4 separate regions of the Homo sapiens genome follow, and all the other regions are linked to region 1. Evidence: fine-mapped expression QTL. A gene starts in region 1. Each other region holds a variant in brackets. All regions are shown on one strand. Distances are between the middles of the regions.

Region 1 (7,503 bases):
GGTGGCAGTGAGCTATGACTGCACCACTCCACTGCAGCCTGGACAACAAAGGGAGACCCCCTATGTAAAAAAAAAAAAAGGGTGGTTCATTTCCCAGATTATCCTCCAGGAACCTATATAAATCCCAACATAGCTAACATTACTTCATATTTTGCAATGGGAAACATAAATATTTTTGCAATATTAATGAATAAGCAAAACAGAAAAACCAAACGAATTATTGTGGGATTTTTAAATAGAAAACATTTGATTCAAAGGGGATTATGGAACTCAGGGTCAGAGAATATGAAAGAATTACTTCTTGCTACTTTTAATACTATCTGAAGTTAATGGCACTGGCTCACAAACAGAAAACAGCACGAATGAGAAGGGGAAAGAAAATATGAGCTGTGTTTTTTCTTTTTTCTTTTTTTGAGATTGAGTCTCACTCTGTCGCTAGGCTGGAGTACAGTGGCACGATCTCCGCTCACTGCAACCTCTGCCTCCCGGGTTCAACCAATCATCCTGCCTCAGCCTCCGAGTAGCTGGGAGTACAGGGGCGTGCCACCACGCCCAGCTAATTTTTTGTATTTTTAGCAGAGACGGAGTTTCACCATGTTGGCTAGGATGGTCTCGATCTCTTTACCTCGTGATCCGCCTGCCTGGGCCTCCCAAAGTGCTGAGATTACAGGCGTCACCTACCGCCCCGGCAAACTGTGTGTTTTTAAGGAAGATGATTCAACTAGTGTTTCGAGGGTGAAAGAATGGGCCAGGCTGGAGAAGTACAATAGCACTCCGAATCAAAGGGAGAAGGGAAGAAGGGTGAGTGGCCAGCCTATTGGTAGGGGGTCATTAATCTAGATTCTAGGAGGTTAGGCTGGAAGTTAGTCCAGAAAATAGATCCGAGGCAGTTAAGTCCAAGGGGAGGCGTGGCACAGATGTTCAAAGCAGGGTCAAAGATTCAGGGTATCAATCCTAACAGGGCCAGAGAAGGTCCAAATGGAAAAGCTCTGGTTGGAGCCCAAACTCGGGGAACTCAAGATTGAGATTTACTGTTGATTCCAAGACACTTGAGACCCCTCAGCTCCTGGGGCCAGGATCCGTTCCAGAGGGTAGTTGAGGCCAGAGTAGCAGGGTAGGTGGAGGAACTAGGGAAAAAACTGTAGAGACAAACAGAGTTAGAGAATGGTGGGAGGAAATGGGTCTAAAGTTGGTGTGCTGGGCCACAGAACAGAGAAGACCCTCAGAAGGAAAGGGCAGCAGAAGGGAGGAGGAGCCCTGAGAGACAGGGCGGATCTCCGAGCAGCACCAGGGGGCGCGTGCCGTTCCCGGACAGTCTTGTTGATTTCCGGGGCTTGGCAGTAGGCGGAGGAGGCAGGAAGACAATGGCTCAGCCTTTAAATTGGGGCTGGGGTGGTGTTTGTAAACGACATTAAACACACTACCGTACTAAAAGGTAGCCAAATCATCTCATCCCTCTGCTTGCTGGTGTCATTAATATCCTAGGCACTAATATTACTAGGCTGGCTAGTGGTGACAACTGAGAGGCGAGGGAAGAAGCTTAAACGATGACAAAAGATAAAGGCAGGGAAACGCAGTAACACTTTTTTTTTTTAATTTTTATTTTTTGAGACGGAGTCTCACTCTTACTGCTCAGGCTGGAGTGCAATGGCGAGATCTCGGCTCATTGCAATCTCTGCCTCCCGAGTTCAGGCGATTCTCCTGCCTCAGTCTCCCGAGTAGCTGGGACTACGGGCGCCTGCCACCACACCCATCTAATTTTATGTATTTTTAGTAGAGACGAGGTTTCACAATGTTGGCCAGGCTGGTCTCGAACTCCTGACCTAAGGTGAACCACCCGCCTCGGCCTCCCAAAGTGCTGGGATTACAGGCGTAAGCCACCGCGCCCGGCCAACTCACACAGAGGAAAAAGTGTGCAAAGTCAAACTGTGAGGAAATAAAAGACGGAGAAGCAAGTCCAGAAAGCACCTCGTTCAGGTTACGTGACAATTCCGGGGTGGCCTGTGTCCCTCTCCCATCTCCCTTGCTAATGCAATACTCACGGGGTAGCTGTGCTTCACCAACACACACAAACGTAGGCTTGGCTTTTTGGGAGCAGTCACATGTGAGCTCATTTTTGCCAAACATTAAATAAAAAGCATGGTAGAATTTGAGGATGCACTTTAAATCATCAAATAGTTCCAGGGAATGAAAGAGCAGAACTTTGGGTTGTTTTTCTGTGCCAGGAGAGAGTGGTGGGGGGCGGAGGAGACCCTTGTTAGAAGATGATGTATTTTGAGATTACTAGATTCACAGAAGATGCACGTGAATATACTCTAACCATTTAAAATTATGTTTCTGAATGCTGCCTTAAAAAATACAACAAGTTATTATCATAATAAAGTGAGGGAGAGTGGAGGGGTAATTATCCAGACAGCCCATTCCAAAATCTATCATATAAATTATCTCCAGATTGTACACTACTTAAAGGTAGAAGAGGATCTTTGAGTTTAACCCTTGTACACTTTGTGATTGTGCCTGTCACTCAATAAATAGTTGATTAATTTGGGGGACGCACCAGGAGCAGTGTTTCCTATCTGAAAGGTGGACCACCGAACTCAGAGGCGGCCCTCTGAGACCAGCAGGATGCAAGTGCGACGACCAATACAAATATCTGAGCATTCAATGGAGTTTTTCCAAACTTCTAGCCTGTTTCTGGGGTGATTTTTTTTCTTAGGATTTAGCAGTACTCCACCGCGCTACAGCAGTTAGCATTTCTAAAGCACACACTCCAACACCCTTCGGCCGTAGCACATTCAATCCCTCCGCCGGGGCGTGGGGGTCTCCTCCCCTCCGAGCACAGTCCCCGGCTTCCCGATCTCCTCTGCCCCATCCCCCCGCCTTCCAAGCACATTGTGCTCACTCTTCCAGGCAGCTCTTTCAGCGGCCGGGCAGTAGCAGGGTTCCGAGCCCGTCTTCTCCGGGGCGGTCACACGTGTCCATTCCCTGGGGTTGGGGATCGCTCTTCCCGCTTGGCTGCTGATTGGTGCCTCCCCCTACCCCACCCTTCCCGCCGCTCTCCAGCCTCCATCCTACTTCGTTCCAGCTCAATCAGCCCCACCGCCTTCTTCCCTCGGAGAAAAAAGCCACTTCAGAGCTCCTTGGGCGCCGTTCTCGGCTGGAATAAAAGCGTTAAGAAACAGGTGGAAAGCACTTCACTTCTCTAGGCTTCATATTTCTAGGGTGGACAGCCCGCTCCTGCTCCGGCTCTGCCCTCGGCATCAATAATAACTGAACTCCCACACGTGCACGTTTCTGTCTCTAGCCCGACCGAAAGGACCACCCCGCGGGCCCTTTAAAAGGACGCGACCACTCAGGCCAAGTGGGGGTGGGAGAGCTCCTGGCCGTCCTCCCTTGGGAAAGTGCTTCAACTCCCCAGTCCCAAAGTCCTGGAGGGCGGAGGGCGCCTCGTGAGAGTTCTCGGGGGTGCGGCCCGCGCCCCCTGGGTCCTGCGGATCTGGGCCCGGGGGCGCGCGCCCCGCCCCTCCCCCTCCCTGGCGGTGCAGCTGTCCGGGCGGGGGTGGGGCGGGGGCGGGGGTTGTTGTTGTGGCGCGGGCAGCCCCGCCCCCTCCTCGTGGGCGGCCCCTCCCCCAGGCCCCGCGTCCGGCCCCTCCGCCCCTAGCCCCATCTGTTTCTCCGGCGGGGACTCGATTATATTGTAGGGGACTGGGGGCGGCCGCCGCCGCAGCCGCGGGATGGGGCGAGCGCGCGGACCCCGCGGGCAGCCGCAGCCGCAGCCGCCTCAGTAGTTCGGGCCCCCGCGCCGCCGCCCCCCGCCCGGCGCCCGCCCTCGGCTCCTGCACTCGCCGAGCGGCGGCAGCAGCGGGAGGAGCGCCCCGCCGCCCCCGCCGAGGACCGCGCGGAGGCTGCGGCGCTGCCGCGGCGGGAGTCCCAGGTCGGCGGGCAGAGCGCGGGCAGCGAGGGGCCGCCGCCTGTGCCGCAGCGGGGAGATGTGCCCAGAGGAGGGCGGCGCGGCCGGGCTGGGCGAGCTCCGCTCCTGGTGGGAGGTCCCGGCCATCGCGCACTTCTGCTCGCTCTTTCGCACCGCGTTCCGCCTGCCCGACTTCGAGATCGAGGTGAGTGGCCGCGCGGGCGGGAGGCGGCGCGCTGCGCCCCCTGCTCCCCCTGCCCCGCGCGGGGTGTCCCGGGCCGTCGCGCAGAGGGGCCGGGGCCCGAGGGACTTCGGCCGGGAGTCGGGGGCCAGGAGGAGGGCGCAAAAGGGCAGGAGGGCGGGCGGGGGCCGCCGGGCTGTGCCCGGGTGCCGAGGGGCGTCGGGCCGGGGACGCCGGATCCTGGGGTGGAGGAGCAGGCACCGCGAGGGCGGGGCGGGCCCGTGCTTTTGTGGGAGAGGGAGCGGGAGCGGGACCCGGCGACCCTCCCGGGACTTCTCCGGTGGGCTGGGGCTGGGTGTGGGCGCGAGGGCTGCGCGCGCTCGCCGCCCGGTGCCATTGAGGCGCGAGCCAGCTGCTCCGGCGGGGCCGGGCGCGGGGGGGGGGCCCGCGCGGGATTAACTCGGACCGGGGCGGGAGTCGGCCGCGGCCGGCGGGGAGGGCTAGCCCCGCTCTGGCGGGCGGGCGCGTGGCAGGGGCTCCCGGAGGCCCCAAGCTCCCGGGAGGCGCTCCGGCCAACTTCGGGCCGGTGGGGACCGGGCCTGGGCGCGGGGCTCTGGAGGTGTGGAAGGAAAGTTTGGGACTCCGTTATTCTTCCACAGCGTCCTTCCTCCCGTAATATCCAGCCTCTTTATCGCGGGGCTCGGGAGCCCTTGGAGTTGATCTCGCCACCATTATCCCCCCGGGCGAGCGCGGAGGACGGGCTGGCCATTCTGGCCAGGCCGGAGGTGTTTTCCAGCCCGGGGCTTTGTGATAACTGGGCCGAAACCCGAGGGTCCTGGAGCGCGGCGGGTGGCGGGAGCTTGCGGAGCGCGGCGCACTCGGCGGCCAGGCATCGGCCAGCCCAGCGGCAGCCCCCTTTCTCCTATTTTTATTTTTATTTTTGGAAGGAGCTGAGAATTAGTCGATTGGTTGGCAGGTTGAATTGCCTTCTCTTCTATGGCAATATGTGTCGTGACTTTTCACCTTTTGCCTTTGGACAAAGGTGAATGGCAACTGCGTTGGTCAGTTTTTGTTTTCTGTTCTGCGGATGGGTTCGCCGACGCAGTAATCAAAATTAGAGCCACTCTTTTGGAAGAGCAAATCGTTGTTGTTGCCTCCCCAGCCCCACGGATCTTACTTTGTGCCATTTTCGGGTTGATTTTAACTCGTTTATTTCAGAGCTCTTTGCCTCACCTTTATTTTTAGATTTAGTCGTGTTTGCTGAAATATCAGTTGCTTCTTCTGTGAATGAAGTGTGGGAACTTGCTCTCGTCGCAGTTAATGAAATCAGGAAAATAAAAAGATCAAAAGGGTTGGGGATGGGAGAATGAAGAGGAATGTAGACAGATAGTCTAGGGCCACTCACTGGCTTTTGGCGATTCTTAGTTCCTTAAGCTGATTAAAACAATGTGAGGAAATGTGGGCTTCTCCACTTTTTAGGAAGAGGTAATAACGGGCATTTTACGTGGCGCCACAGCGTTTGTTTTCAAAGTTTGAACGTGAATGTAGCAAGCATAATTTTATTAATGAAAATATTCTTTAGACAACTGTTAATATTGACGAAAGAAGAGAAACAGAGACACGGAAGCTAAAGAGTTGGGAATCCTAAAGGTCAAAGGATGTTTCTCAGTTACTCTGATGTCCTGTGTTTTCTTTCAGTTGGTACAAAATCGTGAGTAGTTTAATTATATCCTGCAGTCAAAATGGTGGCTGTGGTGGGAGGTGCCGCCTGTGACAGGGCCATCTTGGGTGCTGGTAAACTTGCACCTAGTCCCTTTTCTTCCTTGCGAGATAAAGTTGAGGTGGTGCTGGGATTATGAGTTCAGAGTTTAAAGACCCATCCTAAAAATATTGTTGGAAAAACTTTATGTCTCAAAATCCATGTATTCCCATTTTGTTGATGAAAAGCTAGAGGTAACTCATTTTGCCTTAAGTACTCGCAGCATATTTAGAGTAACCTGTAAATAACTTGTCTTCTGTTATAAGCAATAAACTTGTGGTTTCTGAGAATTAGCTGGTTTAATTCCTAAAGGAAATGTAAACTGATTAAAGAGGTCAAATTTATATGTATAACATGAAAAATCACTGTAGTTTACATGGTGAATAATCAAGGCTATTTGATATGACTGTCCTCTCTTTTGACTCCAGTGTTTCTTGGAAATGACACTTTTTTGGGGCTAAAATACATGCTGTTTGAAATACATGCAACAGAAATGAATATTTGGCTTCAAACATGCAGGTTTTAAGAACTATCCACACTCGTTTTTATTTGGAGATGTTCAGTCAGTGGATAACAAAGTGACTTTTCTCACCTGCAGTTTTTGTCTAATCCATCTCAGGTATGTTTTGATATGGCTAATGGAAATTTTAACTTACGCTTTTTAGTAGTTATCAAAAATTAGAATTTTATTGGGAATGATTATATGTGAGATTTAAAAATTAAGATTTAAGAATGTATTTTCTCGACTCGGTGGCTCACCCCTGTAATCCCAGCACTTTGGGAGGCCGAGGTGGGTCGATCACCTGAAGTCAGGAGTTCGAGACGAGACTGGCTAACATGATGAAACCCCGTTTCTACTAAAAATATAAAAAGTTAGCCAGGCATGGTGGCGCGCTCCTGTAATCCCAGTTACATCCGTAGGCTGAGGCAGGATGATCGCTTGAACCCGGTAGGCGGAGGTGGCAGCGAGCCGAGATCGTGCCATTGCACTGCAGCCTGGGCGACAGGGCGAGACTCTGTCTCAAAATAAATATATTAATTAATTAAAAGATAAAAAATTCAAATGCCGAGCCGTACCTGTTAGGCCATGTGGAAGGGCCCTACAGTCTTAATTTTCTGCAACTTTAAAAGGTAAAAATGATAAATAATAGCAAGTAGTAGAAGTTGGGTATCAGTTATTTCAGGAAACCAGTTTTCAGCTGTGGGAAAGATCTCACCAGGCTGAACTCATGGATTTATAGAAAATTGAGGAAGCAGAGTCTTCAAGGACTCGGCTTCCATTTATCTAAAGTGAAGCAATCTCTAAGACAGGTGAAGGGCTGGCAGGATTCATGCCCCACTTCTCCAAGAGATTAAGACCTTCCACTTAGAAAACTGTCCCCAAAACGTGGATATTTTTATTTTTGTGTGTATTAAATAAATTTTTTGTTTTTTCTGAGACGGAGTCTCACTCTGTTGCCCAGGCTGGAGTACAGTGGCGCGACCTCGGCTCACTGCAACCTCCACTTCCCAGGTTCAGGTGATTCTCCCGCCTCAGCCTCCGGAGTAGCTGGGACTACAGGCATGTACCAGCACACCCGGCTAATTTTTGTATTATAAAAAAACTTTTTACTCTATTAATCAACCTTGAATATACAGGATTGCTTTAGAAGA
Region 2 (7,503 bases), 35 kb after region 1:
TGGATAGCAGGGTACAAAGTCACTCAGTGAAGATGCTTGCTGGGTGTTGAATAAGGTTAGAGAAGCTAGGCACACCTGCCAACTCTCTTTATCCTTAGGAGGCTCTTGAGAAATGTCCTTTTTCTCGTGAGTGATTTCATTTCTGAAGTCTTTGTTTTATGGCGGAGCTGCATTCTGACTCCCAGGCTGGCTGACATCTTCATTTCTCCCAGGCTTAAGAGCGAAGGGAAAGACAGAAAGTCTGAGAAGGGCAGAGAAGAGGGAGGTCAGAGGGTTTGTTCTGTAAATACCTTGCTGCTTATCCAGGTAATTGGGATCTCACTTGCCTGTGTATAGTTTGTTGGCAGGATCCCAGGAGAGTCTTTTTTGTTTGTTTTGAGACAGGGTCTCCCTCTGTTGCAGGCTGGAGTGCAGTGGCATAATCTCTTGCTCACTGCAGCCTCAACCTCATGGGCTCAAGCAGTCCTCTGGCCTCAGCCTCCTTAGTAGCTGGGACTACAGGCGCATGCCACCGTGGCTGGCTAATTTTTTGACTTTTGTTGTTGTTGTTGTTTGGTAGAGATGAGATCTCACTATGTTGCTCAGACTGGTCTTGAACTCCTGGGCTCAGGAGATTCTCCTGCCTTGGCCTTCCAAAGTGCTGGGATTACAGGTGTGAGCCACCGCGACCAGTCCCCAGGGGAGTCTTATTCTTGCAGGATTTTCTAAAGACTTCTTCTAGAACAAGTGTGACTACAATTCAGAATCTTCATCTCCCCTAAAGAAAGAGTGTTCCAGAGGTGAGGAGGGACGGGTGACAGAAACTGGTAGCTGAAGAGGTTTGTTGATGGATTAGTCTATTTATTCATAATGCTTGATATCAGAAGACCAGAAGAATATTTTTGCAACTTATTTTAAAAAACAGCTTTACTGAGGTATAACTGACATAATCTACTGCAAATATTTATGTGTACAATTTGGCAAGTTTTGACATATATATACACACTAGTGAAACCATTACCACGTCAAGACGAACATGTCCGCCAACGCCACGCGAGGGTGTGATATCCTTGTGTCCCTTTGTAATCTCTTTGCCCCCGTCTCACCCCAACCTGTGTTTCTCTCAGGGTGACCCCCCCAATCTGCTTTCTGTTACTGTATGTTAGTTTACATTTCCTAGACTTTTACATGAGATATACGCTCTTTTGATGTTGTTCCTGTTCGTTCTACTCAGTGTAAATGGAGATTCATTCATTCTGTAGCATGCGTCAGTAGTTGATTCCTTTTTATTGTTGAGTACTATGCCAGTTGAGGGATAGATAGTACTATAGTTTGTTTATTGAGTGCACCTATTGGCAAAAATTTGTGTACCATTCTTTAGACACATGCCTCCGTTTCTCTTGGGTAAGTACCTGTAAGTAGAATGACTGGGTCATATGGTAGGTGAATATTTAACACCCCCCCCCGCCCCCGCTGCCTTTTTTTTAACAGATGGGGTCTCACTGTGTTGCCCAGTCTGGTCTTGAACTCCTGGATACAACAAGCACTCCTCCCACTTCAGCCTGCTGAGTAGCTGGGGCTACAGGTGCTCAATACCATACCCAGCTCAACATTTTAACTTTTTTTATTGGAGACAGAGTCTCGCTCTTTTGCCCAGGCTAGAGTGCAGTAGCGCAGTCTCAGCTCACTGCAAGCTCCGCCTCCCAGATTCAAGTGATTCTCTTGCCTCAGCCTCCCGAGTAGCTGGGATTACAGGTGCCCACCACCATGCCCAGCTAATTTCTTGTATTTTTAGTAGAGACGGGATTTCACCATGTTGCCCAGGCTGGTTTCGAACTCCCGAGCTCAGGCAGTTCACCTGCCTCGGCCTCCCAAAGTGCTGGGATGACAGGCGTGAGCCACTGTGCCTGGCCAACATTTTAACTTTTTAAAAAAATAAATTTACTTTAGAATCATTTTAGATTTATAGAATAGTTACAATGACAGCACAGAGAAAGACTTCATGTATATCAGGGCTCAGCAAACTTTTCCTGTCAAGAGCCAGATAATAAATATTTTACACCAAATGGTCTTTCTTAAGACTACTGTGCTGATGTAGGGCAGAGGCTGCCATAAGACAGTGAGTAAATGAATGGATGTGTTCCAGTCAAACATTATTTATAAAAACAGGTGGTAGGCTAGATTTGGCCCTTGGATTGTAGTTTGCTGATCTCTTCTATAAACCCTCCACCCAGCTTCCTCTCATGTTTAATCTCTTATAATCATGGTAAATTTGTTAAAACTAAGACATTCACATTGGTGCAGTACTATGAACTAAACTTCAGACTGTTTAGATTCCAACAGTTTCCCAATCTTTTCTTTTCTTTCTTTCTTTCTTTTCTTCTTTTTTTTTTTTTTTTTTTGGAGACGTAGTTTCACTCTTGTTGCCCAGGCTGGAGTGCAGTGGCGCAATCTCGGCTCACTGCAACCTCCGCCTCCCGGGTTCAAGCAGTTCTCCTGCCTCAGCCTCCTGAGTGGCTGGGATTACAGGCATGTGCCACCACGCCCAGCTAATTTTGTATTTTTAGTAGAGACGGGGTTTCTCCATGTTGAGGCTGGTCTCGAACTCCTGACCTCAGGCGATCCACCCGCCTCGGCCTCCCTAAGTGCTGGGATTACAGGCGTGAGCCAGCGCACCCGGCAGTTTCCCCATCTTTTCATTTCAAGATTTGTTCCTGCATTCCACCTGACATCGCATGTCTCCTTAAGTCTGTTGTCATCAGCGTGGACTCATTGATACTTATCCTTTGGGTTTGAATCTAATACTGTTTACTTAGCTGCTCAAATTATTTCAAGCTTTGGCCATTGGAAATTCTTTCAGGTTGACTCCTTTCTCCTTTAGACATGTCCTCATTTTTTTCTTTTGGTACTGCCATTGTTTGGCTATACCCACTTTTTATCCATTCACCAGATGATGTATTGTTTTTGCTTTTGGATTGTTTTTGTTTGGGGCTATTATAGATAATAGCTGCACGTATTTGCTTGTAAGTGTGTGCTTTCTTTTTTTCTTGGACAAATACTTAGTAGTAGAATTGGAGTTATGTTTTAACTTCTAAAGAAACTGGCAAACTTGTTTTCCAAAGTAAACACACCAGTTTGTTTTCAACAGTAGTGAATAAGGGGCTCTAGTTTTTTCACATCATCAATACTTGTTATTTCCTGTCCTTTTGCTTATCACTATTCAGTAGTGGGGGGCGAAGGGCTATTTTAATGTGGTTTTGATCTGCATCTCCCTTATCATTAATAATGTTCACCTTTTTCTGTGTTAGCTATTTATATCTTTGGTGATCTTCTAGTTAAGGTATTCTGCTCATTTTAAAATTGGACTCTTTGTCTATTGAGCTGTTATATATTCTGGTTTTGCTTTTTCCTAATCTAAGGTCACAAAGGTTTGTTTCTTACATTTTCTTCTAGAAGTTTTATTGTTTTAGATTTACCATTTAAGTCTGTGCTTCATTTTGAATTGATAATTTGCATATGATATAAAGTACTGATCGAAGTTGGTGGGGTTTTTTTTGAGTGGGGAGGGGGCATGTGTTTAGTAGCATTTGTAGATAAGACCACCCTGGCCGGGCACAGTGGCTCACACCTGCAATCCTAGCACTTTGGGAGATGGAGTCAGGAGGATCACGAGGTCAGGAGTTTGAGACTAGTCCAGCCAATGTGG[T/G]GAAACCCCGTCTCTGCTAAAAATAACAAAAATTAGCCGGGCGTCATGTTGCACGTCTGTACTCCCAGCTACTTGGGAGGCCGAGGCAGAAGAATCTCTTGAACCCAGGAGGTGGAGGTTGCAGTGAGCCGAGATCGTGCCACTGCACTCCGGCCTGGATGACAGTGCGAGACTCTGTCCCCATCCCCCCGACCCCCCTGCCAAAAAAAAAAAAAAAAAGACTATCCTTTATTAGTTGCCCAAGTCAGTTTTCCATATACATGTGGGTTCATTTCTGGACCCTGTTCTTTCTTTTTTTTTTTTTTTTTTTTTTTGAGACGGAGTCTCGCTCTGTCGCCCAGGCTGGAGTGCAGTGGCGGGATCTCGGCTCACTGCAAGCTCCGCCTCTCGGGTTCACGCCATTCTCCTGCCTCAGCCTCCCCAGTAGCTGGGACTACAGGCGCCCGCCACTACGCCCGGCTAATTTTTTGTATTTTTAGTAGAGACGGGGTTTCACCGTTTTAGCCGGGATGGTCTCGATCTCCTGACCTCGTGATCCACCCGCCTCGGCCTCCCAAAGTGCTGGGATTACAGGCGTGAACCACCGCGCCTGGCCCTGGACCCTGTTCTATGTCATTGTTCACTCTGTTCTGTTTTCAAGACAATATCACAGTATCTTAATTAGTGCAGCTTTTAATAAGTAGTGAAATCAAATAATGTTAGTCCTCTCACTTTGTTCATTTTCAAAGTTGCTTTGGCTATTTTATATTTTTTATATTTCCATATGAATTTTAGAATTAGCTTATCAGTTTCTACAAAAAAAGCCTGCTAGCATTTAGATTGGAGTTGTATTGAATATCTAGGTCAATTTGTAGAAAATGGGCCTCTTAACACTATTGAGTCTTCTGACCCATGATGATGGTACCTCTCTCTCTCTAGGTTTTCTTTGATTTCTGACAGAAAAGTTTTATATTCAAATTCTCAACTCTTTAGGTATCTCCCATCTTTTGTCAGATTTATCCCAAAGTATTTCATTCTTTTTGATGCTATTATACATTTTTGAAAGTTTTAGGCCAGGCATGGTGACTCACACCTGTAATCCCAGCACTTTGGGAAGCTGAGGCAGGCGGATCACCTGAGGTCAGGAGTTCAAGACCAGCCTGGCCAACATAGTGAAACCTTGTCTCTACTAAAAAATACAAACAATTAGCTGGGCATGGTGGTGGACGCCTGTAATCCCAGCTACTCAGGAGGCTGAGGCAGGAGAACCGCTTGAACCTGGGAGGTGGAGGTTGCAGTGAGCCGAGATTGCGCCATGGCACTCCAGCATGGGCAACGAGAGCGAAACTCCGTCTCAAATAAAATAAGATAAGATAAGATAAAATAAGATAAAATAAAAAATATAAAATAAAATAAAATATAAAATAAAATAAATTAGACGGGTGTGGTGGCTGCCGCCTGTGATCCCAGCTACTCCAGAGGCTGAGGCAGGAGAATCGCTTGAACCTAGGAGGCAGAGGTTGCAGTGAGCCGAGATCGTGCCACTGCATTCCAGCCTGGGCAAAAGAGTGAGACTCCATCTCAAAAAAAAAAAAAAAAAAAAAAAAAAATTTTCAATTGTTTGCTAGTATTAGAAATAGCGTTGAGTTATATTACTCTTGTATCTGTAACCTTCCTAAACTCCCCCCTTTTAGCAACCTGTTTGTAGATTCCATTGGATTTTCTGCATAGATGATCATGTTGTCTGTAAATAAAAATAGTTTTGCATCTTTTTGCAATGTGGAAGCCACTACTTCTTTTTCTTACCTTAGTGCACTGTCTAGAGCCAACCATAAAATGTAGAGGCCAGAGTAGACATCCTGGTCTTGTTCCTCATCTTAGAGAAAAAGCATTCAGGTCTTCCCCTTTTCCCTTTCTATTTCTTCCTGCAGCCATGGGTTATTTAGAAATACGAATATATTAGAAGTGTATTAGTTATTAGAAGTGTGAAGAATATTAGTTTTCAAATATTTGGGAATTTTCCAGAGAGCTTTCTATTAATGATATCTAATTTAACCCACTTTAGTCAGACAAGACATTTTGTATGACTTGCATCCTTTTAAATGTATTGAGACTTGTTTTATGGCCCAGAATATGGTGTCTTTTGGTAAATGTTTCATTTTCACTTGAAAAGAATGTGTAGGACCGGGCATGGTGGCTCACGCCTGTAATCCCAGCACTTTGGGAGGCCAAGGCGGGAGGACCACCTGAAGTCAGGAGTTCGAGACCAGCCTGGCCAACATGACGAAACCCCGTCTCTACTAAAAAAATGCAAAAATTAGCCAGGCGTGGTGGCACACGCCTGTAATCCCAGCTACTGAGGAGGCTGAAGCATGAGAATCACTTGAACCCAGGAGGCGGAGGTTGCAGTGAGTCGAGATTATACCACTGCACTCCACCCTGGGGGGTGACAGAACAGGATTCTGTTCCTCCCCCCACCCCTCCCTCCAAAAAAAAGAAAAGAATGTGTATTCTGCTGTTCTTGGCTAGAGTATCTTATAAATGTCAATTCAGAGACTTCTTTATCTTTTAATACAATAGGGGTGAAATATGAAATGATTCATTTCCCTTCCCCAGATTCTTAGCATGAGTCTGGAAATCCTGCCAGCTCTTTCTTCTAGCTGAAGAGCTGTCTCCTGATTGCAGTGACAGCTTTGAACTGGAAGACATTATTTCATTAGTGCACTAATCAACCACAGAGATTACCTGATTGGCTGCTTAATAATTACATGAAGTTGCTTGTAATTCTTTGAGCATACACAGAACTAATTAAATTAACCCTTTACTGCCTGGCATGCCTGGGGTATTCTCGTGCGAAAATGGAGGAACCTAAAATCCTTCTTGAACACTGGTGAGGTAAACAAGCAGATGTGTCAGTGAGTTTCAAAGGGAAGCACCTTGTATAAGAAGCATTTAAGTACAAATCAAAAAATGCAGATTCAGAAACTACCAGTCCTTTGATAACTTGAGTATTAGCTTATTAGCCGTGTTCTTGAAGTTTAATGGGAAGCTTTTATACCAATACTTTCTTTGGATAGAAACTTAAGATAAACTCTTTTCATAGCCACTTACTGACTTTGAGGAGTTTGTTGTTGTTTTAAGGATCATTCAGTGTAAAATCATTTCCTTAGTTATTTCAGTATAAGCTTGCATCATCCTAGTGAGATATAGAGCAAGGCTGGTGAATGAGAATACCGTACTGGGCTATAATTGAAAGAGGCCGGGTGCGGTGGCTCACGCCTGTAATCCCAGCACTTTGGGAGGCCAAGGCGGGTGGATCACCTGAGGTCAGGAGTTCGAGACCACCCTGGCCAACATAGTGAAACCCCATCTCTACTGAAAACACAAAATTCGCCAGGCACGGTGGCGGGCGCGTGTAATCCCAGCTACTGGGGAGGCTGAGGCATGAGAATCGCTTGAACCTGGGAGGCGGAGATTGCAGTGAGCTGAGATCGCATCACTGCACACCAGCCTGGGCAATAGAGTGAGACTCTGTCTCAAAAAAAAAAAAGCCATGAATTAGAGGGCCTTATTTTAGCCTCAGGTTTTAGGTGGATGATTAAGGAAATTAAGATAGGAGAAGTTAGGCACCCTGTCTAACAGTGGTTCTCAACGGGGTGATTTGCCCTCTTAGAGGACTTTGGCGGTGTCTGGAGACAGTTTTGGTTGCCACAACTCAGGGGAAGAGGGGTGTGGGTAGAGGTCAGGAATATTGTCAAATAGCCTACAGTGCGTAAGACAGCTCTTGAGAACAACAGCAAACATCATCTAGTCCAAAATGTCAGTACTGCTGAGATTGA
Region 3 (7,503 bases), 23 kb before region 1:
GGGATGAACCACTGTACCCGCTATGGCCTTAAAATCCGTTTTTTTTTTTTTTGAGACGGAGTCTCACTCTGTCACCACATAGGCTGGAGTGCTGTGGCACAATCTTGGCTCACAGCAAACTCTGCCGCCCAGGTTCAAATGATTCTCCTGCCGCAGCCTCCCTAGTAGCTGGGATTACAGGTGCTTAATTATTGTACTTTTAGTAGAGATGGGGTTTCACCGTCTTGGCCAGGCTGGTCTTGAACTCCTGATCTTGTGATCCACCCGCCTTGGCCTCCCAAAGTGCTGGGATTACAGGCGTGAGCCACCACGCCCGGCATTTTTTTTTTTTTTTTGAGACAGAGTCTAGCTCTGTTGCCCAGGCTGGAGTGCAGTGTTGAGATCTCAGCTCACTACAACTTCCACCTCCCAGGTTCAAGTGATTCTTCTGCCTCAGCCTCCCAAGTAGCTGGGATTACAGGTGCATTCAACCATGCCTAGCTAATTTTTGTATTTTTAGTAGAGACAGAGTTTCACCATGTTGGCCAGGCTGGTCTCAAACTCCTGACCTCAAGTGATCCACCCACCTTGGTCTCCCAAAGCGTTGAGATTCCAGGCGTGAGCCACCATGCCTGGCCATGGCCTTAAAATTATTTTGTAGAGGTGAGGTCTCCCTGTGATACCTGGTTTTGACCTCCTGGCCTCAAGCAATTCTCCCACCTTGGCCCTTGGCCTCCCCAAGTGCTGGGTATTACAGGCATGAGCCATTGTGCCCAGCCTCAACAATTTTTTTTATTCATTTCTTTTTTTATTTTTATTTTTCTTACTTCCTTTTTTTTTTTTTTTTGAGACAGCGCCTCACTTCACTGCCCAGGCTGGAGTGCAGTGGTGCAACTGCAGCTCACTGGAGCTTCGACCTCTTGGGCTCAAGCAATTTTCCCACCTTCACCTCCTGAGTAGCTGGGACTACAGGTGCACACCACCACACCTAGCTAATTTTTATTTTATTTTATTTTTTCAGACAGAGTCTCACTCTGTCACCAGGGCTGGAGTGCAGAGGTGCAATCTTGGGTCACTGCAACCACTGCCTTCTGGGTTCAAGCGATTTTTCCACATCAATCCCCTAAGTATGTGGGACTGCAGGCTCGCGCCACCACGCCTATCTAATTTTTGTATTTTTTGTAGAGACAGGGTTTCACCATGTTGGCCAGGGTGGTCTCAAACTCCTGGGCTCAAGCAGTGCACCCCCTCAGCCTCTCAAAGTGTTGGATTTACAGGCATGAACCCCTGAGCCCGGCTACTTTTTCTTTATGTGATGTGGATTTTTCTGTAGTTTTGTTTTACACATTGAGCATGTATTATATATTATTCTACTATATTATTCATTATATGACATACATTACTATGATTAGTAAAAGTGAATACTATTTTTAAAATAACACGTGGTCATTATGAGAGACTTCAGAAATACAGAAATGTATGAACAAGAAAAATTTTGAAATCACCCATAAAAATGCTCATGTCATTACATTAAGGGGAAAAGGATACAAAATTATATATATAATTTCATTTTCATTAAAAAATATTTATGTGGCCGGGCTGCGGTGGCTCAAGCCTGTAATCCCAGCACTTTGGGAGGCTGAGGCGGGCAGATTGCCTGAGGTCAGGAGTTCGAGACCAGCCTGGCTAACATGGTGAAACCCCATCTCTACTAAAAATACAAAAATTAGTCCAGGCGCGGTGGCTCACACCTGTAATCCTAACACTTTGGGAGGCCGAAGCAGGTGGGTCACCTGAGGTCAGGAGTTCGAGACCAGCCTGACTAACATGGAGAAACCCAGTCTCTACTAAAAATACGATATTAGCTGGGCGTAGTGGCGCATGCCTGTAATCCCAGCTACTCAGAAGGCTGAGGCAGGAGAATCGCTTGAACCCAGGAGGCGGAGGTGAGCTGAGATGGCGCCATTGCACTCCAGCCTGGGTAACAAGAGTGAAACTCCGTCTCAAAAAAGAAAAAAAATTCAAAAATTAGCCGGGCATAGTGGCACACACTTGTAGTCCTAGCTACTCAGGAGGCTGAGACAGGAGAATTGCTTCAACCTAGGAGGTGGAGGTTGCAGTAGCAGAGATCACGCCCCACTGCACCCTAGCATGGGTGACAGAGCAAGACTCCATCTCTAAAAAAAAAATTTATGTAAGGCAGGGCACGTTGGCTCACGCCTGTAATCCCAGCACTTCGGGAGGCCGAGGTGGGTGGATCACCTGAGGTCAGGAGTTCCAGACCAGCCTGACCAACATAGTGAAATGCCATCTCTACTAAAATTACAAAACTTAGCCGGGCATAGTGGCATGTGCCTGTAATCCCAGCTACTCACGAGGCAGAGACAGGAGAATCGCTTGAACCCAGGAGGTGGAGGTTGCAATGAGTCAAGATCGCGCCACTGCACTCCAGCCTGGGGGACAGAGCAAGACTCCGTCTCAAACAAACAAACAAACAAAATATATATATATCCTGACCCCAAGTGATCCACCCACCTTGGCCGCCCAAAGTGCTGGGATTACAGGCGTGAGCCACTGTGCCCAGCTGGCAATTTTGTTTTCTACAATACTGTGTTTTAGTTTATTTCTATATCTCTACAATTAGTATGTATTGTTTTTCCATTAAAATTTATCTTTTTCCATATAAAGGTAACACATAATCGTAATAGAATATTTGAGAAATGCACAAAAATAGAAAGAAGGTTGAGGAGGTGGCCATCGTTGTCATATAGCCCAAAGACAAACAATATTTTTACTATATTTCCTTAATAATAGTTACTTAAAAAAATTTACTGTGTGCCAGGAATACTTTGCTTATTTAATCCTCACAACACTATGAAGAAGTATTATTTTACCTATTTTAAAGATTAGTGCTCTGCCTTGCATAATTTTTTTTTTTTGGAGATGGAGTCTTGCTCCATCGCCCAAGCTAGGATGCAGTAGCGTGGTCTCTGCTACTGCAATTTCCACCTCCCAGGTTCAAGCAATTCTCCTGCCTCAGCCTCCTGAGTTGCTGGGACTAGAGGAGTGTGCCACTACGCCTGGCTAATTTTTGTATGTTTAGTAGAGACGGGGTTTCACCATGTTAGCCAGGCTGGTCTCGAACTCCTGACTGCAATCTGCCCACCTCAGCCTCCCAAAGTGCTGGGATTACAGGCTTGAGCCACCGTGCCCGGCCACACAAATATTTTTTAATAAAAATAAAATTATATATATAATTTTGTATTCTTTTCCCCTTAATGTAATGACATGAGCATTTTTATGGGTGATTTCAAAATTTTTCTTGTTTATACATTTCTGTATTTCTAAAGTCTCTCATATGAGACTGAAAAATCATAATTGTTTTTGGCAGAGCCAATTAGCACATTTAACATGACTTTTCTCCAGCGACAACAATGCAGCATCATCTCATCAGCCTCTTCCTGTAGGTGCTATTTTCCAGTGCTTTTCTGAAGCTTCTTTACATTCTCTACATGATACTGGCATGTGGCACCTTTATTCTGACAGCAGTGAAGGCCTGTTTAATGCAGGCTGAAAGGGTCATCTTCTAGTAGGCAAATATAAAATTGTGTAATCAAATCCCAAAAACCAATTACAGAAAAGTAGTTGAAGGAGATCTTGGCCTGACCATTTATTTATTTATTTATTTATTTATCTGAGTCAGAGTCTTGATCTATTGCCAAGGCTGACGTGCAATGGCACGATCTCAGCTCACTGCAACCTCCGCCTCCCCAGTTCAAGCAATTCTCCAGCTTCAGCGTCCTCAGTAGCTGGGATTACAGGTGCCCACCACCATGCCTGGCTAATTTTTGTATTCTTAGTAGAGTTTCACCATGTTGGCCAGGCTGGTCTTGACCTCCTGACCTCAAGTGATCCATTCGCCTCTGCCTCCCAAAGTGCTGGTTTGATTACAGGTGTGAGCTACCATGCCCAGCCAGCCTGACTGTTTATTTT[T/A]AAATTGGGGGGTTTCTGTTGTCTCTGGACTCAATATGAACCAATGGTGTGATGAGCTGCCAAAACCCTAATGCTAGCTTGGTTGTCTTAAGATAAACATGCTTATCAGCTCAAGGGAAGGAAGCAACACTGTCATACTGGGCGTTGGTGAAATAACTTTTGCTTTGTTTTGTTAGGTACAATCCCAAGAAGAACCTTGAGAAGGCTCAACAGGACTTTAAGAAGTCTTGGAATCGCGCCACTGCACTCCAGCCTGGTGGCAGAACAAGACTCCATCTCAAAAAAAAAAAAAAAAAAAAAAAAGAAGTCTTGGGCCAGGCTCCGTGGCTCATGCGTGTAATCCCAGCACTTTGGAAGGCTGAGGCAGGCGGATCACCTGAGGTCAGGAGTTTGAGACCAGCCTGGCCAACATAGTGAAACCCTGTCTCTACTAAAAATACAGAAATTAGTCGTGCGTGGTGGAACGCTCCTGTAGTCCCAGCTACTTGGGAGGCTGAGGCAGGAGAATCACTTGAACCTGGGAGGCGGAGGTTGCAGTGAGCCGAGATTGCGCCACTGCACTCCAGCCTGGGGGACAGAGCGAGACTCTGTCTCAACAACAACAACAACAACAACAAAAGTCTTGAATCCACGCTATGCGAGGAAGGAACGAGGGAAGGACCACAGCTCTGTCCTTAGTTCTTGGCCCCCCTCCCTTCCCATGTCCTCCCTGGGGAGCCTCCCGAAGGGCTTGCTACACCCTGCTGGCTCCCGCACCACGTCCACTGGGACCTCCCTGCTGGTCCTGTGCATCCGGCTGGTCATCAGCTCATCGTGCCTCAGGGTTACAACGTGTATACCTGCTTGCTTCAACTTTCTCTGAAGAGCCATAGTCTGGATTTCAGGCAGTGAGGTCATCCCTCGCCCAGTCACGCGAGTGTGGGATATGATGAGGTTTCTCTTCAAATAGCCCTATCAATCCTTTATTCTTTAATTCATATACCCTTAAACCCCTTTTTCCTTTCTCTCTTTTTTTCCTTTCTGCCTTTGTTACATGCCCAGACACGCCACAGTACCAGGCTTATCAGTACCAGCTCACATTCTTTCCTTATTTAAAAAAAAAGATGACCGGGCGCGGTGGCTCACGACTGTAATCCCAGCACTTTGGGAGGCCGAGGCGGGCGGATCACGAGGTCAGGAGATCGAGACTATCCTGGCTAAAACGGTGAAACCCCGTCTATACTAAAAATACAAAAAAATTAGCCGGGCGTGGTGGCGGGCGCCTGTAGTCCCGGCTACTCGGGAGGCTGAGGCAGGAGAATGGCGTGAACCCGGGAGGCGGAGCTTGCAGTGAGCCGAGATCGCGCCGCTGCTCTCCAGCCTGGGCGACAGAGCGAGACTCCGTCTCAAAAAATAAAAAAATAAAAAAATAAAAAAGACTAGCTCGCTAACTCATTACAGATACCCTTTCCCCTTTTCCCCTCTCTCCCTTACGTGTCCACCTTATCTAAAAAGAGTTCAAATGTCTAGCCAACCGGGATTAGTTCAGTTTGTGCGACCCGACCCTGGCCAATGGGGAAAGGGTACAGGGGCAGGACTTGGCATCAGGAATAAAGGCTCTCGTGCGCCTTTGTTCAGGTGTGCTCTCATGGTGACCGGCCAAGGAAAAGCACCCCTCTGCGCAAAAGTAAAATTGCTTTGCTAAGAATCCTTTGTTTGAGTGTTCAATCTCCTTAAGATTTTAAGTGTTATTCCCAACACAAGTAATCTAGGACACGTATTTCTCAAGCAGAACACACATCAGTCACCAAAGCCTGTAGGTTCTAGCTGCACAATATTGTCCTGACTCCTCCTTTTCTTCATGCCCTCTGCTGTTGCCTTCGGTTAGGACCTCACTGCTTCCTGCCTGAATTACTGACTTCAGCCTTTGTGACTTCAGTCTATTTTCTAACTCGTCTTTCTGACTACAACCTATTTGTTCCCTTTGCTTCTTCAAGCCATTCTCCATCATTGTGCCAATGTTCTAAACGTAAACAGTTTCTATCATTTTCTTGCTTAAACTCTTTCAGTGGCTTCTCCAAATGTGTCAGCATGAAGCTTTAACTGTGAGCTGAGCACAAAAGGACTTTCCTCACCTGAATCCTGTTTACATCTGTAGCCTCATTCTTCTTCCACAACCAACAAACATGCTTTGCCCCAGACACTCCGAGTGACGCGACTATTTTATGCCACTGCGCCTCTTAGCTTCCCCCTTGTCCACCCAAAGGACACATGTCCTTCAAGCTGCACTGAAGCATCTCCGTGTCCAGGAAGCGTCCTCTGGTGTCCTAGCTTAGTGTGGATGTTCTTTGTCCGTGCTCCCCATAACATATTGTGCCTACATGCAGATCTCTAATCTCTGATTTATTTGTTTGCCTTCCTCTCTAGACTTTAATTGCTGAACTGCATGGACCCTGGTTTACTGAACTTCGTAAATCTAAATCTACAGTTGGATACCGTGCGTGGCACAGAAAAGACCTTCAATAAATGATTTCTGGTTTCGTTTTGGTTTTGTTTTATTTACTGCTTACTACAACCAAGTACTGCTCTAGTTGCTGGATATGCAATAATGAACAATTCACACCTGGGTCCTGCTCTGAATAAATGAACAAATAAATATTAAATAAATGAAGTGGGAGTATTTACTTGCAGAAGAGAGAAATCTTAGAGTGGCACTGACTAGCGTCTTCAAGGGGCTATTATTACGTGGAAGAGAAAGTAATACTTTTTTTTTTTTTTGAGATGGAGTCTCATTCTGTCACCCAGGATGGAGTGCAGTGGCATGATTTCAGCTCACTGCAACCTCCACCTCCCAGGTTCAAGCAATTCTCCTGCTTCAGCCTCCCAAGTAGCTGGGATTATAGGTACCTGCCACCAAGCCTGGCTAATTTTTTTTTTTTTTTGAGATGGAATTTCACTCTTGTTGCCCAGGCTGGAGTGCAATGGCACAATCTTGGCTCACTGCAACCTCCCCCTCCCAAGTTCAAGCTATTCTCTTGCCTCAGCCTCCCAAGTAGCTGGTATTACAGGCACCCACCACCATACCTGGCTAATTTTTTGTATTTTCAGTAGAGAACGGGGTTTCACCATGTTGCCCAGACTGGTCTCGAACTCCTGACCTCAGGTGATTCACCCACATTGGCTTCCCAAAGTGTTGGGATTACAGGCGTGAGCCACTGCATCCGGCCAAGTAATACATTTTAATCTTGCTCTTCAATCATCAAGTTAAATTTACAGAAAGGCAGATTTCACTTCACTGTAAAAGAAGATTCTTTGAATAGTTAGAATTGACCAAAACTAGAGTCGTCTGCCTCCCGATGCAGTGACTCCCAATGCTGTAAATGGAAAGTGATCAAATGCAGGCTGACGTGTCCTCAGAGATGTCAGGAGGCATTCCTCAGTGGGTGGGAGGTTGACCCACATGCCCCTTAAGGCATCTCTGGACCATGAAATCACAATGCACTTTTGACTTTCATTCTTCTCAGGCTCCATCTTGCTAAACACCCTTTGCAC
Region 4 (7,503 bases), 110 kb after region 1:
TTTGATAGAACATTCTTCCTCTGTATTTCATCACAGGATGGTGAGACCAGGGCTTGTATTTACTGTGCCTTGGTTTATCCATTTGGTACTAACTGGGGGGGGTTTATAGTTACTAAAGGGAAAGAGAAAAGGCTTTACTCTCCAGGGGTTCGTCACCTATTCTTGGTTCTCATCTTTACTGATTCTGCATTTTAAGTTCTGCTGAGCTCCAGGGGTAAGTTCAGCAATGTCTTCATCACCTCACAAGTTAGCTTGGACCTGCAAATTTTTGGGTGGGTTTTCTGGGTGGCTTCTGACACAGTAAACATAATATCATAGAATTATATTTAAAAAGCAATTTTACATGTTGAACCCTGTTTTTAATGACTTCATGAGTTAGTTACTATATTCCAGGGATGGTGAAATGGGGAATATGGTAGGTAAGGGAGAAGAGTTGGAATATTTAATAAGTGACGCAGAGTTCCTCTCCCTATGTGTGTCCTTTGAGGGACCATTTAAGCCTATTCGATTCTCCTTGGAAGAGCTAGTCCAGCATCCCTGATATTCTACTTTCTATTGTGTTAGAAGAAAAGGCACTCCTGACATTATTGCTACAATGTAGAAAACTTGTCTTGCCTCCTTGGAGGATAGTATTCTAGCTAGAACCTAGGCAGCGCTGGTGAAAATGGCCATGATAAAGGCGGAAGCCAGAAGAGGATGTCTGTGTGCCGAAGGCGGAGATGGAGAAAAAGGTAATTAAATTTCTTGGAAACCACATAGTAAAAGTGATCCTCTAAGGAGATGCCACATGAACCATACGGCAAACTTTATGCAGTCACCTCCTTGAAAACACCCTCCCAGTTCTTAGCTTATCTTCTCAAATGTGGCCTTTGTTATTTATTTATTTCTGTAGAGATGGGGTCTCGCTATGTTCCTCAGGCTGGTCTTGAACTCCTGGCTTTAAGCAATCCTCCCATCTCAGCCTCCAGTGTTGCCTTTATTATTTAATTTGGTACTTCCATGCTTAAAAAAATCTTAGGAGAAATTAGTTAGTACAGACTGTAGCACCTTTAATCACGATCCGATTGTGCTCTTAGTTTATGATGGCAGGGAAGGGAACAGAACAGGACGTGTAGAAACCTGGGGATGCATGGACGCCACAGTGACAGTGAGCACTGGTGGGAGCAGCGTGGGGGAGCTTGGCTGGGAAGACTTTGCAGATAAAGTTTCTCCCGTAAAGAACTGCAGTACAGTTCAGCAGAGGGACGGGATTTCCACCTAGGGAGAATGGTACATGTGAGGGCTCTTAGAGAAAAGACACAGTGGTTGGGGCGGTCACTGTAATTGTAGAAACCATCAGGCCTTTCTAGAATGGAGAACATTGGCCGGGGGGAGCAGCTTGGTTTTGGGAAGAACACTGTACTCGGTGACCTGGGTTTCCACTCAGCTCTGTCACTGATTTGCTTAGTGCCCTTGGAGAAGCCAGTTAACCTTTCTGGACCTAGTTTATCTTGCTGTTGTTGTTTTTTCTCCCTTAAAAGAGACAGGGTCTTGCTGTGTGGCCCAGGCTGGTCTCAAACTCCTGGGCTCAGTGATCCTCCTACCTCAGCCTCCCAAGTGTCTGGGACTGTAGGCATGCACCACCACACCCGGCTAGTTTCTACATCTTTAAATTGAGAGAATGGAAATACGTGATCTGTAGTTTCATTTCCGGCTCTAGCTGATTCTGACTTACCTATCAAATGAGATTGGCCTGGGAGTTTTGGCTTTGAAGATTTTGCTTCTGTTGTAAGTCACTGGGAGGCTTGCCCAGTGCCCAGCTTAAAACATGAGCCATTCAAGTCTTCCCTCGCCTCGGCTGGCCTTTACTTGTGGCAGATCTTGAATTCCTATTTCTCCGTTCTCTCATTTAGTAAGTCCTTTAGAACCTTCCTCTTGTGCTGTTGCTTGGGCTAACATCTCCCCTCCCACCCTCTACCACTAGAATTCCTTGTATATACACAGCAGCTAGATTAGTCTCACTTTGCCTCTCTATAGAAATAAACTGAGGTAGATCTCCATTGTCTCCCGAAGAAAGGCCAAACTCATTAGCTGGGTATTCAGGATCGCCTGTCAATCTCAGCTCACATTACTCCCCTTCACATAATCTAAAGAATAGTTAAACTGAACCTAATATCCTCCTGCACCTGGTCATGCCCTGCCTCTCTCCATTGTCACTCGGTCACAATTACCATCTCACGAAATCTCCCAGGCTTCCACAGCAGAAGTAACCCTTTTCTTCTCAGCTCCCATAGCGTGTTTTCTGTACCTGCTAGTACTGATTGATTTGTGTTTTTTGTTTGTTTGAGACAGTGTCTCACTCTGTCGCCCAGGCTGGAGTACGCTGGCACGATCTCATTTCACTGCAATCTCTGCCTCCTGGTTTCAAGCGATTCTTGTGTCTCAGCCTTAGTAGCTGGGATCACAGGTGCGTGCCACCATGCCTGGCTAATTTTTGTATTTGTAGTAGAGACAGGGTATGACCATGTTGGCTAGACTGGTCTCAATCTCTTGACCTCAAGTGAGCCACCATGCCTGGCCAGAGCCGTATTATTTCTATATAAGAAGGAAACCCCACCCCGTTTTGTGTCTGCTATCATGTAATTGCTGTTAAGATCACAACTTGCATCTTATGCACATCTCGTACTTTTCAGAACCGTTAATAAGATTGTCAGAAGTTTGGTTTTTCTGGGGATTACTGATCTGGTTATGAGCAAGTCAAACCATAGGGAGCAGACTCTTGGGAAATGGTTTGCATGCAGAAGATTGCATCCTGGTTGAAAGAATGTGGGCAAACTTTTCTAGTAGGAGACTTGATGGCCTAGAAAACATTCTGTCATCTAAGAAAATACCTGCTTATTTTGGGGGTGTTGGGAAGGGAAATAGGATCTCCTAAAGTTCCCCACCACCACTTTTTGTCCAGTGGTCCCTTTCCAAACAATTGCTTGTTGGAATACCGTGTCGAGGCAAGCTGAACCCCAAGGAAAGCAAAGACATTCACAGAGACGTTACCTCATTCTGTTTAGATGATGTAAGATTAGCCTTGGATCTCGCAATCACCTTTCATCAGCCATGTAGGTGTGGCATCCCAAAATAAAAATTGTCATTATCACTTACTAACAAATGCCATTCAAAATACAGTGGTTCTTTAAAGCTGTTGCAGATGGTTTATCTCTTGAGAAGGTTGAGTAAATGACAAATGTTTCATAAACAATTACATGAGCACTCCTTTCCTCTCTTTTGCGATTAAAATAGCAGTACAGCACATTTGTATTTATACTCGATTATATATAATCAAAGAGTTAAGCTCTTTAATTATGCAGCTAGCATTGATTTATCAAAAAGAGTTATGTGTGTTTCTTCTCATGTGCCGGTAAGAGGAATGGGGTTGGGGAGGGAGTAGTGAGAGAAATAAAACCCTGGGAAAAAGAAAACGCGGAATCCGGTTGCTCTTCTCACAGTAGCCAGAAGGAAGGGCAGAGCTGATCTCTGGCAAGTCCTTCCGCTGCTGGGACCATTCAGTTCTTGGGGCTTGTGCTGGCGGTAGGAAGGGGTGTGTATTTTAAGAAATCTCTGTTTGATTTCTCAACTTCCCTCTCTCCCTCCCTCAGGAGTTAGAAGCCGCTCTTCACAGAGATGACGTGGAGTTTATCAGTGACCTGATTGCCTGCCTGCTTCAGGGCTGCTATCAACGAAGAGATATCACGTGAGTAATTCTGATCTTTCTAAGCATTTCTTGC[G/C]CCAAGAACTAATTAACCAACCATAGTGATGTTTCCTGTCTCCTGTGACAAACCAGAACCGATCATTAGGCATCACGGGACACTGTAGATGGAGGACGTACACGTAAATTTCCAGGCTGTGTTTGGCTTATTCTGCAGTTGGGTTTTTATTCCATCATAATCTTTGAGTTTATTTCATTCTCACAAATCCATATCACTTACTCTTGGATACCCCAGCTAACATATTTTAGTGTAGAATTTCTTCTTATATTTGCCATTTTCTGATTTTGCAGTATTGGTAAAGTATTGCCTAAGAAATCAAAACTAGTTTTTATTACCTTTCTGTCATTTGAGTATCTTCTGTTGTTTACATAGCCAGCAGCACTGATGTAATAAAAAAAAAAGAGAGATGTGTAGAGACATTGAGCAAAATGTGATGTATGGAGACAAATAAAGGAGAGTCCTGATAGGACCTCTTGTTTTGATCTTTACTTAATACACGTTTCTTTGCTATGTGTCTATATAGGACAGAACTACAGGGCAAACTCACAAAAAGGTGAGATGCAATGGGTTTCCTGGTCTCTTGCCTTCTGATGCCATGTAGGGGGTTTGAGTTGTTATGGTTTGCCTTTCTCAGATAGGTAAAATGGTATCAAATTTTTTTTTTTTTTTTTTTTTGAGACGGAGTCTCACTCTGTCGCCCAGGCTGGAGTGCAGTGGCGCAATCCCGGCTCACTGCAAGCTTCACCTCCCAGGTTCACGCCATTCTCCTGCCTCAGCCTCTCGAGTAGCTGGGACTACAGGCACTCGCCACCACGCCCGGCTAATTTTTTGTATTTTTAGTGGAAATGGGGTTTCACCGTGTTAGCCAGGATGGTCTCGATCTCCCGACCTCGTGATCTGCCCGCCTCGACCTCACAAAGTGCTGGGATTACAGGCGTGAGCCACCGCGCCTGGCCAAGTATCAGATATTTTTGTTCTAACGAATTCAGTCTGTTAGGGCTGGGAAACGATGCTTGTTGTTAATGTGCAATAAAGTTGTAGACAAGGTAAGAAGGAGATGTAAATGCTGTTTTTCTCAGGGTGGAAGTCTGCATTCTCTAGGGGAGAGTTATTGCTCGTGCACTAAGTATAATGACTTTTCCCCCTAGAATACCCAGGTTGTATTTGTAAATAAAAATAAACATAAAATATACCTTAGAATATTTTCTTCCGTTCTCTATTTAGGATGTAGACTTGGGAGTTTGTAATTTTTAAGCACTGTTGTATTCGTACCTTGTGTTTAATTCCACATTTTCATAACCTGGAATTTTTTTTCATTATAGCAATCAGTTTTCTTATAACCACATTTTCTAAATGTCATTGTCAAATAATCCAGTCTGGTAGCTGACAAGTTATGTCTAGCTTTTAGCTGTTATAAACATATATAATGCATAGCTTTGTACAAAATTCACCAGGTTCCTGGAAGTACATCACTCAGTCAAAAGATATGCCCATTTAAGATCTTCATTTTAAGCAAGGCTTAAAGGCTTTTGCCAGGTTTCCCGTCACAGAGGTGGTTGTATTTTAGCCTTAAATGATCAGTGCGTGAGAGTGTCTGCTTGGATGATCCTTGTGAGCCCTCTGTACACAGACTAGTAGGTACTGGCAGCACAAACACTCACCAGATCTCTTAGAGTTCACAGTTGTGACAGGGAGGTCCATGAATCATTACAGTAATGATTATATAGTTGCCAGTTATGTAATTACAACAGTAAGTGCTTAGAAATAAAAATACAACATATTAACAGAGCATACAACCTGGGGTAAGAAAGTGACTTGTGAACTGAGCCTTCACATATGGGCTGTTTTCTCTCATAGGATATTCCTCCGTGGCTGAGTTCATCCTCTAATTTGTCCTTCTGTTTAAAATTGATCTTAACTAATTCTGCTTGTTTGTTCTTCCAGATAGTGGTTACAAAGTTATGTCCTGTTCTTTAAGAACTCCCCTTATCTAATCATTCTAACTAGAATCAAATAAACCTATGAAGAAATGTGGGCAAAATTGACATCCCTACAATGTGGTCTTTCTTTTTTTTTTTTTTTTTTTTGGGACAGGGTCTTGCTGTTTCACCCAGGCTGGAGTGCAGTGGCAGGATCCTGTCTCACTGTAGCCTCAACCTGGGCTCTAGCAGTCTTCCCACCTCAGCCTCCTGAGTAGCTCAGGACAGGACTGTGCCACCATCCCCAGCTGATTTTTAACAATTTTTTGTAGAGACAAGGTCTGTGTTCCCTGGCTGGTCTTGAACTCCTGGTCTCAAGCGATCCTGCTGCCTTGGCCTCTCAAAGTGCTGGGATTACAGGTGTGAGCCACTGTGCCTTGCCCCTACAAGTATTTATTAAATAATAGAATACCGTATCCCTGTATCTGTCTTTAATTTGCAGAGTTTATTGGCCTTGATTTTTTTCTTGAGTTAGTATTCTTTTGACTCTCTAGGATTATTATCTATCTCTTTTTTCAGTGTTAATACTGATGTCTGCTTCAAGCTGTATTATCCATTGTTAAGTAACAAATTACCCTAAAACTTAGCAACTTAAAACCACAAAAAGTGTAATCTTACAGTTTCTGTGGGTCAGGAACCTGGACAAACCACTACTGGTGTGTTTAGCTCGAGTTAGCTTACAGGTCTGTGATCAAGGTACCAGTGACAGCAGTCATCTTGAAACTTACTACTCATGTATAATACACACACACACACACACACACACACACACACACACACACAGAGAAAAGTGCTCATTTCCTAATTCTAAAGCTCAATGAATTTTCACAAACTGAACACACCTGTGTAACAGAGAACCTGGACAAGAAAGAACACTACAATCTACTTTACTTTTTTCCCTGAAGGGAATTGCCTAAAATGATGGTTCCACATGCGGTTACTGTGAATGTACACTCGTTCTTGTCTGAAGTTCTACTTTGATCTCATTCTAAAGAAAGAGAAATTTGGATAAGTAAATGTTTACCTGTTATGCCTCCAAGACTAAACTGTTCTATGCAGCTTAAAAAGTTACTTAATTTCGGCCGGGCGCAGTGGCTCATGCCTATAATCTCAGCACTTTGGGAGGCCGAGACGGGCAGATCACTTGAGGTCGGGAGTTCAAGAGCAGTCTGGCCAATGTGATGAAACCCGGTCTCTACTAAAAATACAAAAATTAGCCAGGCGTGGTGGTGCACGCCTGTAGTCCCAGCTACTCAGGAGGCTGAGATGGGAGAATTGCTTCAACCCGGGAGGCGGAGGTTGCAGTGAGCCAAGATCGCACCATTGCACTCCAGCGTGGGCGAAAGAGTGAGACTCCATCTCTTTTTTTTTTAAAAAAAAAAAAGGCCGGGCACGGTGCCTCACGCCTGTAATCCCAGCACTTTGGGAGGTGGAGGCGGGCAGATCACGAGGTCAGGAAATCAAGACCATCCTGGCTAACACGGTGAAACCCCGTCTCTACTAAAAATACAAAAAATTAGCCGGGCGTGGTGGTGGGCGCCTGTAGTCCCAGCTACTTGGGAGGCTGAGGCATGAGAATGGCGTGAACCCGGGAGGTGGAGGTTGCAGTGAGCCAAGATCGTGTCATTGCACTCCAGCCTGGGTGACAGAGCGAGACTCTGTCTCAAAAAAAAAAAAAAAAAAAAAGTAACTTCATTTAGTTGTGCATAATTCGCCTCATCTATAAAATGGAATTAGTGACAATATTCAGTAAAGTTATTATGAGGATTAAACGAAATGATGAG

Alleles and levels. Alleles are on the strand shown, and positions count from the first base shown. SD is a standard deviation of normalised expression in the study named. Not every link is listed here.
For the expression in subcutaneous fat of the gene that starts at base 3,666 in region 1, allele C in region 4 goes with a lower level than allele G (small effect, 0.36 SD a copy in GTEx).

The links. PIP is the estimated chance that this variant, and not a neighbour inherited with it, causes the effect.
Region 2: its variant is the best candidate, but not a certain one, in a credible set for the expression of CECR2 in lung (TOPMed, PIP 0.56).
Region 3: its variant is the best candidate, but not a certain one, in a credible set for the expression of CECR2 in lung (TOPMed, PIP 0.58).
Region 4: its variant is the best candidate, but not a certain one, in a credible set for the expression of CECR2 in subcutaneous fat (GTEx, PIP 0.82).

Annotation. Positions count from the first base shown.
Region 1 is chr22:17,365,795-17,373,297 of GRCh38, forward strand. CECR2 (CECR2 histone acetyl-lysine reader) reads left to right here and starts at 3,666. Exons shown (of 19, transcript NM_001290047.2): 1 at 3,666-4,115. The coding sequence starts at 3,990. RefSeq lists silencers at 3,924-3,993, 4,004-4,103.
Region 2 is chr22:17,400,393-17,407,895 of GRCh38, forward strand. All of the region lies in intron 1 of CECR2 (CECR2 histone acetyl-lysine reader), which reads left to right. Among named protein-coding and RNA genes, the nearest start is that of CECR2, 35 kb to the left of the region's middle. The variant T/G (reference allele first, on the strand shown) is at 3,686.
Region 3 is chr22:17,343,114-17,350,616 of GRCh38, forward strand. No RefSeq gene overlaps it. Among named protein-coding and RNA genes, the nearest start is that of CECR2, 23 kb to the right of the region's middle. RefSeq lists an enhancer at 3,946-4,240. The variant T/A (reference allele first, on the strand shown) is at 3,973.
Region 4 is chr22:17,473,959-17,481,461 of GRCh38, forward strand. CECR2 (CECR2 histone acetyl-lysine reader) reads left to right here. Exons shown (of 19, transcript NM_001290047.2): 2 at 3,630-3,724. Among named protein-coding and RNA genes, the nearest start is that of SLC25A18, 86 kb to the right of the region's middle. RefSeq lists an enhancer at 1,710-2,263. The variant G/C (reference allele first, on the strand shown) is at 3,759.